2 separate regions of the Homo sapiens genome follow, and region 2 is linked to region 1. Evidence: fine-mapped expression QTL. Tissue or cell type: whole blood. Region 1 holds a variant in brackets; the other region holds the start of a gene. All regions are shown on one strand. Distances are from middle to middle. Region 1 overlaps CC2D1A (coiled-coil and C2 domain containing 1A). Region 2 holds the start of CC2D1A (coiled-coil and C2 domain containing 1A).

Region 1 (5,366 bases):
CCCACCAGATATGCATCCCTGAGCACCTCCCCCCCCATGCCTATCCTGGAGCTCCTCCCCCACCAGATGCCCATCTCCAAACCCCTACCCCGTCGGATGCCCACACCCCCCTGCTCCAGCTGTGCCCTCTGCCACTGGCTGCGTTGCATGATGTCCTGGTACTGCTGGGCCACTTCTGGGGGCACCGGCCGCCGCGCCTGCCTGAGGGCCAGGATCTAGAGGATACAGAGGGTCCTGTGAGGATCCTGCCTGGGCCTGCAGACTCCCCAGTCCTGCCCCATGTAGCCCGGCAGGATGGATACCCACCTTCCGCTCCAGACGCTCTTGGTCAAACGCCAGCACACTGAGGCTATGCAGGGGCCGGGCTGATCTAAGGGGTGGAGGAAGGATAAGGGACTGCAGAGATTCCCCCAGCCCAACCCTGTTAATTCAAAAGACACACTGGGCTGGGCACAGTGGCTCACGCCTGTAATCCCTGCACTTTGGGAGGCGGAGGTGAGTGGATCATGAGGTCAGGAGTTCGAGACCAGCCTGGCCAATATGGTGAAACCCCGTCTCTACTAAAAATAGAAAAAAAATTAGCTGGGCATGGTGGTGTGCTCCTGTAGTCCCAGCTACTTGGGAGGCTGAGGCAGAAGAATTGCTTGAACCTGGGAGCTGGAGGTTGCAATGAGCCGAGATCACACCACTGCACTCCAACCTGGGTGACAGAGCAAGATTCTGTCTCAAAAAAAAAAAAAAGCCGAGCATGGTAGCTCATGCCTGTAATCCCAGCACTTTGGGAGGCCGAGGCAGGCAGATCACCTGAGGTCGGGAGTTCGAGACCAGCCTGACCAACATGGAGAAACCCCATCTCTACTAAAAATAGAAAAATTAGCTGGGTGTGGTGGCGCATGCCTGTAATCCCAGCTACTCAGGAGGCTGAGGCAGGAGAATCGCTTGAACCCCAGAGGCGGAGGTTGCTGTGAGCTGAGATCGCGCCATTGCACTCTAGCCTGGGCGACAGAGCTAGACTCTGTCTCAAAAAAAAAAAAAAAAAAAAAAGACACACTGGGCACTGGGGGTATGGTGGGAGACAGCCGAGAACCACCCGGTGTTACTGATCCCAAAACCTAGCGGGGATGATGGCTGCACACCCAGGAAACTATGATGCCTAGTGGTCAGGGAGGGCTTCCTGGAGGAGGTAACAGCCAAGTTGGGATCCAAAGAAGGAATCAGAGGTGGGCAGAGGAACAAGGAACACCCCTACCCTAGGTAGGGGTGTTCAGGGCACTGGAACCCACAGAAGTCCAGAGGCCAGTGAAAACTATTCATGGACATGAACCACAGGAGGGAGTAGGGAGAGAGAAGCCTGGATATGTTGACAATGGTCAGATCACAAAAGGTTTTAAAGACCAAACCAAGGAGTTTAAACTGGATCCTCTGGGAAAAGGGGTGCCAAGAAAGGTTTTGCAGCAGGAGAGGGACGTGGTCCAATTTGTGCCTGGTGGGAAACTGTCCAGGTGGGGCTGAGAGGGGAATTGGGTGTTTTCTCCAGCATGCCCTGGCCCAGATACCTACCTGTTCCCTGACTCCCTTGCAGGGGCAGGCACAGGAGGGGCCTTCCCTTTGGGCCCAGCAACCTGCTTCAGAGGAGAGAACCAGTCCTGTGAGTCCTGGGCCCCTGAACCAAGCTTCCCTCCCTGGGGTTGCTGATGGGTGGGGGTGGGGGGTCTCACTGTGGGCACAGCTGCCGGCACAGGGTCAATGACCAGCCACCTCTCTGTCGTCGTCTCCAACTGCTGGGCTGTCAGTGGCTCCCGAATCCGGACCATTACCTCCAGTCGCCCCCCTGTGGGCCGGCGACCATCCAGGACCTGGGTGGGGGTAAGGAGAAACTGTTGGTGGGAAGCAGGAAGTGACTAGAGGCCCAGGGCCAGGACAAGGGAGAACAAGACTGGTTTTTTTTTTTGGTTTTTTTTTTTTCTGAGATAGAGTCTCGCTCTGTTGTCCAGGCTGGAGTGCAGTGGTGCAATCTGGGCTCACTGCAAGCTCCGCCTCCTGGGTTTACTTACGCCATTCTCCTGCCTCAGCCTCCCGAGTAGCTGGGACTACAGGCGCCCGCCACCATGCCTGGCTAATTTTTTTGTATTTTAGTAGAAACAGGGTTTCACCATGTTAGCCAGGATGGTCTCGATCTCCTGACCTCGTGATCTGCCCGCCTCAGCCTCCCAAAGTGCTGGGATTACAGGCATGAGCCACCATGCCTGGCCAAGAGTGGTTTCTAAAATATGAGCCCATGGTATGGCTGAGATACCAGTTGATCATAATGGAGTGGGGTACTGCAAGTATTTAGGGCTGGGCAGTAGGGAGGTCTGAGGCTCTGAGGGGAGGGGCTGGGTCAACAGACAGGCTCATAGAGGGCTCAAGGCAGGAAGTGTTTTAATAATGTTAACGAGTAGCATGGCCATACCGGAGCACGCGGATGAATGTCCACCTCTCACCTCAAGGATCTCCCGGACCTCACATGCTATCTCCAGTGCATCCAGCTTCAGCTGGGCTGTCCCCAGCACCCGGTCAGTCTTGAACAGCCCCCTGTGTGCATGTGTGTATAGTGGGGACAGGATGGTTGGTTCAGAGGAGCTCCCCTCCCCTGGAGCCCACCCAGCGGCCATGGCTCTCTCTAGCTCACCCCTTGTGAACCACTTCGAACTTGATGCCCTTGGTCTGGATGGCCCTTCGGAAGCCACGGTGGCTGCGGTTGATGCAGAGTTTGAACTGCTCCTTGAACTCTGCAGGAGGAAGGAGGGAGAG[G/A]AAGTTGGGTGGGGTCAGGCCATTGTCTTATGTCCCTTCTGCTGCAAGGGAGTAGGGGTAGGGTGCTTCCAGCCGAGGCTCACCAGGGGAGTCTGTGTTCTTGATCACACTGGTCTTGTCTTTCTGAGCTTCTTCCTATGACCAGAGAGGAGGCAGGAAATCTAGGGGGCCTGGGACCTGGCTTTGGCCCACTGAGGCTGCAGCCCTCCCCTCCTCAGCTCCCCACGTACCACGTTGGGATAGGGGAAGTCAAACCGAACAAAGACATCCAGATCGCCAGGGGACAGTCCTGTGGGCAAACAACGGTCAGAGCTGGGCAGAGAGGGGGTCCCCATGACCCTGACCCTTGCCTACAGCCCCCTCACCTGGGGGTGTGGGCAAGTTGATGCCCTTCACGATGAAGAGGAGCATGTCGTTGCTGCTGAGGTCAGGGAAGATCCTTCCGGGTGGGCAGGTGGGCAGGCAGGTGGGCAGGGAAACAGAGGCACCTCAGTCCCACTGCCCGCCTGCCTTCTCTTCCCCCAGTGGGGGCAGGGAACAAACCCCACCCTGGCCTTCGGGGGTGTCTCAGCTCCTGGGCTCATTTTAGAATCAGACAGACTAGAGTTCTCTGTTCAGGTTGGCAATGGATCACTTTCGAGTCTTTTCTTCAGTCTGTGTATATTTATTTGGTATCTACTGTGTGCTAGGTACCCTAGCTGCTGGGTGATATTCCCTTCACTTAACAGTTGTTGAGTCCTACTAAGCATCAGCCAGTGCCCTAGCTGCTGGGAGATCTTTCCTTCATTTCCCAATGTTTCTTGAGCACCTACTATGTGCCAGCCAGTACCCCAGCTGCTGGGGGACCTTCTTTTCACTTAATATATATGTGTGTGTGTGTGTGTGTGTGTATATATACATATATATACGTGTATATATATATATATACACATATATATACGTATATATATATATACACACATATATGTATATATATATACACATATATATACGTGTATATATATATATATATATATATATATTTTTTTTTTTTTTTTAGACAGAGTCTTGCTCTGTCGCCCAGGCTGGAGTACAATGGTACGACCTCAGCCCACTGCAACCTCCACCTCCCAGATTCAAGAGATTCTTCTGCCTCAGCCTCCTGAGTAGCTGGGATTACAGCTGCCCGCCACCACTGCTGGATAATTTTTATATTTTTAGTAGAGATGGGGTTTCACCATGTTGGCCAGGCTGGTCTCGAACTCCCGACCTCAAATGATCCGCCTGCCTTGGCCTCCCAGCCTGGCCTCACTTAATATTTTTTGAGTCCTATTAAAGCACCAGCTAGTGTCCTAGTTGCTGGGGGACCTTCTATTCATTTCACAATATTTCTTTTTTTTTTGAGACAGTCTCACTCTGTCGCCCAGGCTGGAGTGCAGTGCGATCTCTGCTCACTGCAAGCTCTGCCTCCCAGGTTCATGCCATTCTCCTGCCTCAGCCTCCTAAGAAGGTGGGACTATGGGCGCCTACCACCACGCCCGGATAATTTTGTGTATTTTTAGTAGAGACGGGATTTCACCATGTTAGCCAGAATGGTCTCGATCTCCTGACCTCGTGATCCACCCACCTCAGCCTCCCAAAGTGCTGGGATTACAGGCGTGAGCCAGCACGCCTGGCCTCATTTCACAATATTTCTTGAGCACCTACTATGTGCCAGTCAGTACCCTAGCTGCTGGGGATCTAGAAGTAAATACCCATACCCTGTGCTCAATCTAGCTGAGTGGACAGATGAGCATAAGTACATAAATAGAAAAACAATAAAAAACTCAGCAGAGAGGGGAGAGTGGAGTGTGCTCAGAAGAGACTGCTCGGATAGATAGGGAGGGCCTCTTAGAGGGAAGGTGACATCATAGGTGACTCTAGATGTCAAGAGGGAGCTGCCACATGGAGACCTGAGGAAGAGGGTGAAGGCGGAAGAAATAGCTGATGCAGAGGCTTGGGGTAGGAACACACTTTGTTTGTAGGAGGGACCAAAAAGAGTCCCTTGTGGCCAAAGCTGAGTGAAGCGGGGACAGGAGGCAGAGAAGAGGTGACAAGGAGCCAGGCTGTGTGGAGATGGGGGAGCCAGGGTAAGGGGTGGGGGTTATCCCAAGGGCAGCTGGGAACCACCGGAGGGCTAGTGGCTGCACCTAACCTCATTTAGAAAGTGGAGAAAATGGGCCGGACGCAGTGGCTCACTCCTGTAACCCCAGAATTTTGGGAGGCCAAGGCAGGCGGATCATTTAAGGAGACCAGCCTGGCCAACTGAATGAAACCCCGTCTCTACTAAAAATACAAAAATTAGCTGGGCATGGTGGTGGGCACCTGTAGTCCCAGCTATTTGGGAGGCTGAGGCAGGAGAATTGCTTGAACCTGGGAGGCAGAGGTTGAAGTGAGCTGAGATTGCGCCACTGTACTCCCGCCTGGGTGACAAAGTGAGACTGTCTCAGAAAAAAAATTTTAAAAAAGGCCGGGAGTGGTGGCTCACGCCTGTAATCCCAGCACTTTGGGAGGCCGAGGTGGGCGGATCACGAGGTCAAGAGATCGAGACCATC
Region 2 (5,366 bases), 21 kb after region 1:
CTGGGAGTGCTGGCGGTGTCTGCAATCCCAGCTACTCGGGAGGCTGAGGCAGGAGAATTGCTTGAACCTGGGAGGTGGAGGTTGCAGTGAGCTGAGATTGCGCCACCAAACTCCAGCCTGGGCAACAGAGCAAGACTCTGTCTCCAAAAAAAAAAGAAGAGCAATTAGAAGCCCTGACGACAGGGCCAGGTGCAGTGGCTCACGCTTGTAATCCCAGCACTTTGGGAGACCAAGGTGGGGGGATCACCTGAGGTCAGCAGTTCGAGACTAGCCTGGCCAACATGGTGAAATCCCATCACTACTAAAAATACAAAAATTAGGCCGGGCACGGTGGCTCACGCCTGTAACCCCAGCACTTTGGGAGGCCGAGGCAGGCGGGTCACCTGAGATGGGGAGTTCGAGACAGACCAGCCTGACCAACAGGGAGAAACCCCGTCTCTACTAAAAAATACAAAATTAACCAGGCATGGTGGCGCATGCCTGTAATCCCAGCTACTCGGGAGGCTGAGGCAGGAGAATCGCTTGAACCCGGGAAGCGGAGGTTGCAGTGGGCCGAGATTGCGCCACTGCACTCCAGCCTGGGGCGAGAGAGCAAGACTCTGTCTCAAAAACAAACAAACAAAAAAAGAACCCCTAACCACAATGCAGGTTTGCCATGCAGACCCGTCTTCCTATCTTGGCTAATGACCAATCATGATGTGATAACATCGTGTTTAACCATATGAAATTGCCTTTCCTGTAGGTAAAAAATGGCCAAATATTGGCAATTATGTATGGTTCCACCAACTAGTAATAATGATAATAGTAACATTTATTGAGTGCTATGTTCTAGCACTTTCCATAAACTATCTCAATGACTCTCTACAACTGTCCTGTAATGTAGGGTCTCTTGGAGGTCTCCATTTTTAATTTTTTATTTATTTATTTATTTTCAGAAGGAATTTATTTATTTATTTTGAGAAGGAGCCTTGCTCTGTCACCCAGTCTGGAATGCAGTGGCGCGATCTCAGCTCACTGCAACCTCCGCCTCTCGGTTCAAGCGATTCTCCCACCTCAGCCTCCCGAGTAGCTGGGATTACAGGTGCCCGCCACCATGCCCAGCTAATTTTTGTATTTTTAGTAGAGATGGGGTTTCGCCATGGCCTCCCAAAGTGCTGGGATTACAGGTGTGAGACACCACCCCGGACTTCCATTTTTAATTTTTTATCTTTATTTTAGAGAAAGAGTCTTGTTCTGTCACCCAGGCTGGAGCAGAAGTAGCGCAATCATAGCTCACTGCGGTCTTGAACTCCTGGGCTCAAGCAATCCTCCCTTCTTAGCCTCCCAAGTAGTAGTACTACAGGCACATGCCACCATGCCCAGTTAGTCTTTTTTTGTCGAGACGGGGGTCTTGCTTTTGCCCAGGCTGGTCTCAAACTCTGGCCTCAAATGACTCTCCCACCTCTGCCTCCGCCTCCATCTCCTGAAGTGCTGGGATTATAGAGATCTCCATTTTACAGATGAGAAAGCTGAGGCTCAGAGCTGTAAAGTCAAGTGTCCGATGTACAGAGGCCAGGAGGGAACTTCAGGTCAGCCAGACTCTAATATCTGAACACCAAGCTATGTCCTGGGCTCCTTCCATCAAAACTGAGAAAAATCAAACTATCTGGTGCCTGGGGCAAAGAAGTCGGGAGAGTGAGAAGGGGTCCAGCCACAGTGCCATAAGCTTATGGCTGCAGCCCTGGATTTGTGCTTAGCCCTGGCCAAGCTGTTAATCCCTATGACCTTGGGCAGATGTCTTCACGTCTCTGAGTCTCAAAGTCCTCATCTGTACAATGGAATAAAAAGAGTCTGACATGGCCCGACTGATGCAAGGGTTTGATGTGTCAAGTCCGAGGACTGCCCCTCCTCGACTGGAGCAGCTGTGGCAACAGGTGGCCCCGAACCCGGGGCAGGGCCCCAGGAGCTGGGGAGCCAAGGCCAGTAGGCCACACTTGGGTGGTGTTGGAGCCTCACCTGGGGGGAGGCGGGGACCGGGGCTTACCTGTGGGGCGGAGATCGGGCTTCCCTGGGGGGTGGGGCCCTTCCCTGAGCGAGTGACGGGGGTGGGGAGGGATCCCCAGGTCGGGCCGTGGGGCGCAAACTCACCTGGCGGGCGGCCGCGGCGCCTCTGCCCGGGGGTCCCGGGGGTCCTTTCCTCTTGTGCATCTTCAAGGCTGGATGCCCGGACCACCTGCCCCCAAGCCCGGCCTTGCCCTGCCTCCTTCCCCGGGCTCTGTCGCCGCGCACTCGCCCTTCCTGAGTCCTGCACTCCTCGTCGGCGCCCCGCGGCCGTCGATCCCGAGCCCTCGCTTCCCTGCTTGGCCGTCCCACTTCCGCCTCGGGCCTCGGGCGCCGCCGCACCGGAGCGCGGCCACTGGGCTCGCCGGGTCTGCCGAGCCGAAACTACAACTCCCGGCAGGTAGTGCGTGGGCGCGCAGGCGCCTGGCTGGGGCGGTGCTGACTGTCGCGGGCTGCGAGGGCGGTGTTTGCGTCGCTCATGCGCGGGGCGGGACCTCGCGGGGCGCGGGAAAGAGGCAGAGCGCGCGCAGGTGTGAGGGGCGGCGACATCTGTGGGGTTCAGAGCGTCTGTCAGTCACCGACGGGCTCCGGCTTCACGTGGGCTCTCGGCCTGTGGAGTCCTCACTTCTCGGTGGTCGGCGTAGTGTCAGTGTGGGGCTTGTCACCGGGAGCGGGGTCTACAGCGCCCACCCTCAGGCCTTTCCATCTTTCACCTCCGGACTCGAGGCCTCCAGCGTTCTGTGAGGGCCAATTTGGCCATTTATTTTTTCCAAAAAGAGTAACGCGGATAATTCAAGCGACTTATTCCCAACTGATCCAGGCAGAGCTCGTTTCTGATAAGGACAGAGGGTCCTCAACGACTTCTGTGGCCCAGGTCCGTTCTGGTTTGCCTCGCCCCCAAGGCTGGGAGAAACCGGCCTATGGCAGCTCTTTCCCCTCCAAGGACCCAGCTGTCCCCTTTAAAGTGGCACGATCTTGGCTCATTGCAACCTCTGCCTCCTGGCCTTGTACCACAGCCTCCTGAGTAGCTGGGATTACGGGTGTGTGCCACCGCACCTGACTAATTTTTTTTTTTTTTTTTGAGACGGAGTCTCGCTCTGTCGCCCAGGCTGGAGTGCAGTAGAGCGATCTCGGCTCACTGCAACCTCTGCCTCATGGGTTCAAGGAATTCTACTGTCTCAGCCTCCCAAGTAGCTGGGATTACAGGTGTGCGTCACGATGCCCAGGCTAATTTTTGTGTTTTTAATAGAGAGGGGGTTTCACCATATTGGCCAGGCTGGTCTCCAGAGGCCCCTGGAGAGTCCTCAAGTGTCCTTGGAAGGGCCCCCAGATACCCCAGTCTGGAGGGAGGGGCTTCACACAGGCTGTTTCATCCTAGGGACCAGAGTCTGGGTCCCCGGGGCTATCTATAAGGACCCCCCAGGGCCCATTTGTCTTTCAGGTCCTGGGCATAAGATCTTCAGTTTGGAGGAGGTTTGAATTCCTACCTGGCCATGGCCCAAAGTGGCTGTGACTCTGTGTCCCATCCTGTGTCCCAGTGGGAGCCATCTGACCCCTGGGGCAGCCAAATGGGCTGAGGTGGAGGTAGGGGTAACCTCTGCTCTCAGCCAAAGCCACTGGATATAAACAGAGACAGAGACTGCTTATAATGATGAGAGATTTTGCTTGTTTTCAGATTTCTCAAGGGGAAGATAAAATGACTAAGAGGAAGAAGCTGCGGACCTCAGGTACGTTCATTCAAATGGACACTTGTTGATTTCTGCTTCTGCTTGTGGGAAGAATGTGGGCTTGTTTATTGCAGATCTGGCTAACACGACTGCCTTAACCTCCTTAAAAGGAAGCAAGGATTGGCCGGGTGCGGTGGCTCACACCTGTAATCTCAGCACTTTGGGAGGCCGAGGCGGGCAGATCACAAGGTCAGGAGTTCAAGACCAGCCTGACCAACATGGTGAAACCCCGTCTCTACTAAAAATACAAAAATTAGCCAGGTGTTGTGGCACATGCCTGTAGTCCCACCTACTCGGGAGACTGAGGCAGGAGAATCGTTTGAACCTGGGAGTCCGATGTTGCAGTGAGCCAAGATGGTGCCACTGCACTCTAGCCTGGGCAACAGAGCAAGACTCTGTCTCAAAAAAAAGAAAAAGACAAAAAGGATTTAATTCATGCTGGTAAGAAAAATAGAAGGCCGGTGTGGTGGCTCACGCCTGTAATCCTAGCACTTTGGGAGGCCGAGGTGGGCGGATCGCTTGAGTCCAGGAGTTCAAGACCAGCCTGGGCAACATAGCGAGATCCTGTCTCTACAATGTAAAGTAAGGAAATTAGCTGGGCGTGGTGGCAGGCACCTGTAGTCCCAGCTACTCAGGAGGTTGAGGCAGGAAGATTGCTTGAACTGGGAGGTGGAGGTTGCAGTGAATCCAGATCGTACCACTGCACTCCATCCTGACTGATAGATTGAGGCCCTGTCTCAAAAAAAAAAAGAAAGAAAGAAAAATAGAAATAACGGAGAGGGCATACAGGAAAAGTAAAAGTGAAAGTTTTCTGGAGCTTCTGCAAGCCTCTGGTGGGGTCCCACAGCTTAGAGGAGGCCTCCCCGGGCTTCAGGGCAGCGGGACAGCCTCCCTGCGGAACCAGTCCCAGAGATGACCCCTGGAATAATGCTTGATGTACTACAAGGCCACTCGGTATGTGGCTGAGTGTTTTACTCTGGGGCCCAAAACCTGGGTTCATCCCAGTTCTGCTCAGTGTGTGGTGGTGGATGATTTCCTCTGTGCCACAGTTTCCCCTTTTGTAAATTGGGGATAATAAAAGCCACTACCCTTTCCTTTAGAGCAGTGTTTCTCAACTAGGTGAGAGGAAGGGATTTTGACCTCCAGAGACAGCTGGCAATGTTTGGAGACTTTATTTTTTTTTTTTTTGGAGACCAAGTCTGACTCTGTCGTCCAGGCTGGAGTGCAGTAGCAAGATCTTGGCTCACTGCAGCCTCCACCTCCTGGGTTCAAGCGATTCTGCAGCCTCAGCCTCCTAAGTAGCTGGGACTACAGATGTGCACCACCACGCCCGCCTAATTTTTGTATTTTTAGTAGGGATAGGGTTTCACAATGTTGGCCAGGCTGGTCTCAAACTCCTGACCTCAGGTGATCTGCCTGCCTCAGCCTCCCAAAGTGCTGGGATTACAGGTGGGAGCCACCGTGCCCGGCCTAGAGACTTTTTTTGGTTTTCATAACTGGGGAAATTATACTGACATCTAGTGGGTGGAGGCCAGGGATGCTGCTCAAATATCCTACCATGCATAGGATGCCCCCCAGCCACAGAGAATGATCCAGCCC

Evidence for each region.
Region 2: it holds the start of CC2D1A, and the variant in region 1 is fine-mapped to the expression of CC2D1A in whole blood (TOPMed, PIP above 0.99). The same link has a PIP of 0.9 or more in lung.

Annotation. Positions count from the first base shown.
Region 1 is chr19:13,924,383-13,929,748 of GRCh38, reverse strand. It overlaps CC2D1A (coiled-coil and C2 domain containing 1A), which reads right to left. Exons shown (of 29, transcript NM_017721.5): 18 at 3,159-3,232; 19 at 3,024-3,082; 20 at 2,877-2,928; 21 at 2,672-2,771; 22 at 2,484-2,574; 23 at 1,719-1,856; 24 at 1,561-1,625; 25 at 307-370; 26 at 89-215. Among named protein-coding and RNA genes, the nearest start is that of PODNL1, 11 kb to the left of the region's middle. The variant G/A (reference allele first, on the strand shown) is at 2,794.
Region 2 is chr19:13,903,263-13,908,628 of GRCh38, reverse strand. CC2D1A (coiled-coil and C2 domain containing 1A) reads right to left here and starts at 2,428. Exons shown (of 29, transcript NM_017721.5): 1 at 2,128-2,428. The coding sequence starts at 2,187. BRME1 (break repair meiotic recombinase recruitment factor 1) reads left to right here and starts at 2,512. Exons shown (of 9, transcript NM_001345843.2): 1 at 2,512-2,914; 2 at 3,716-3,767. The coding sequence starts at 3,737. RefSeq lists a silencer at 2,054-2,113.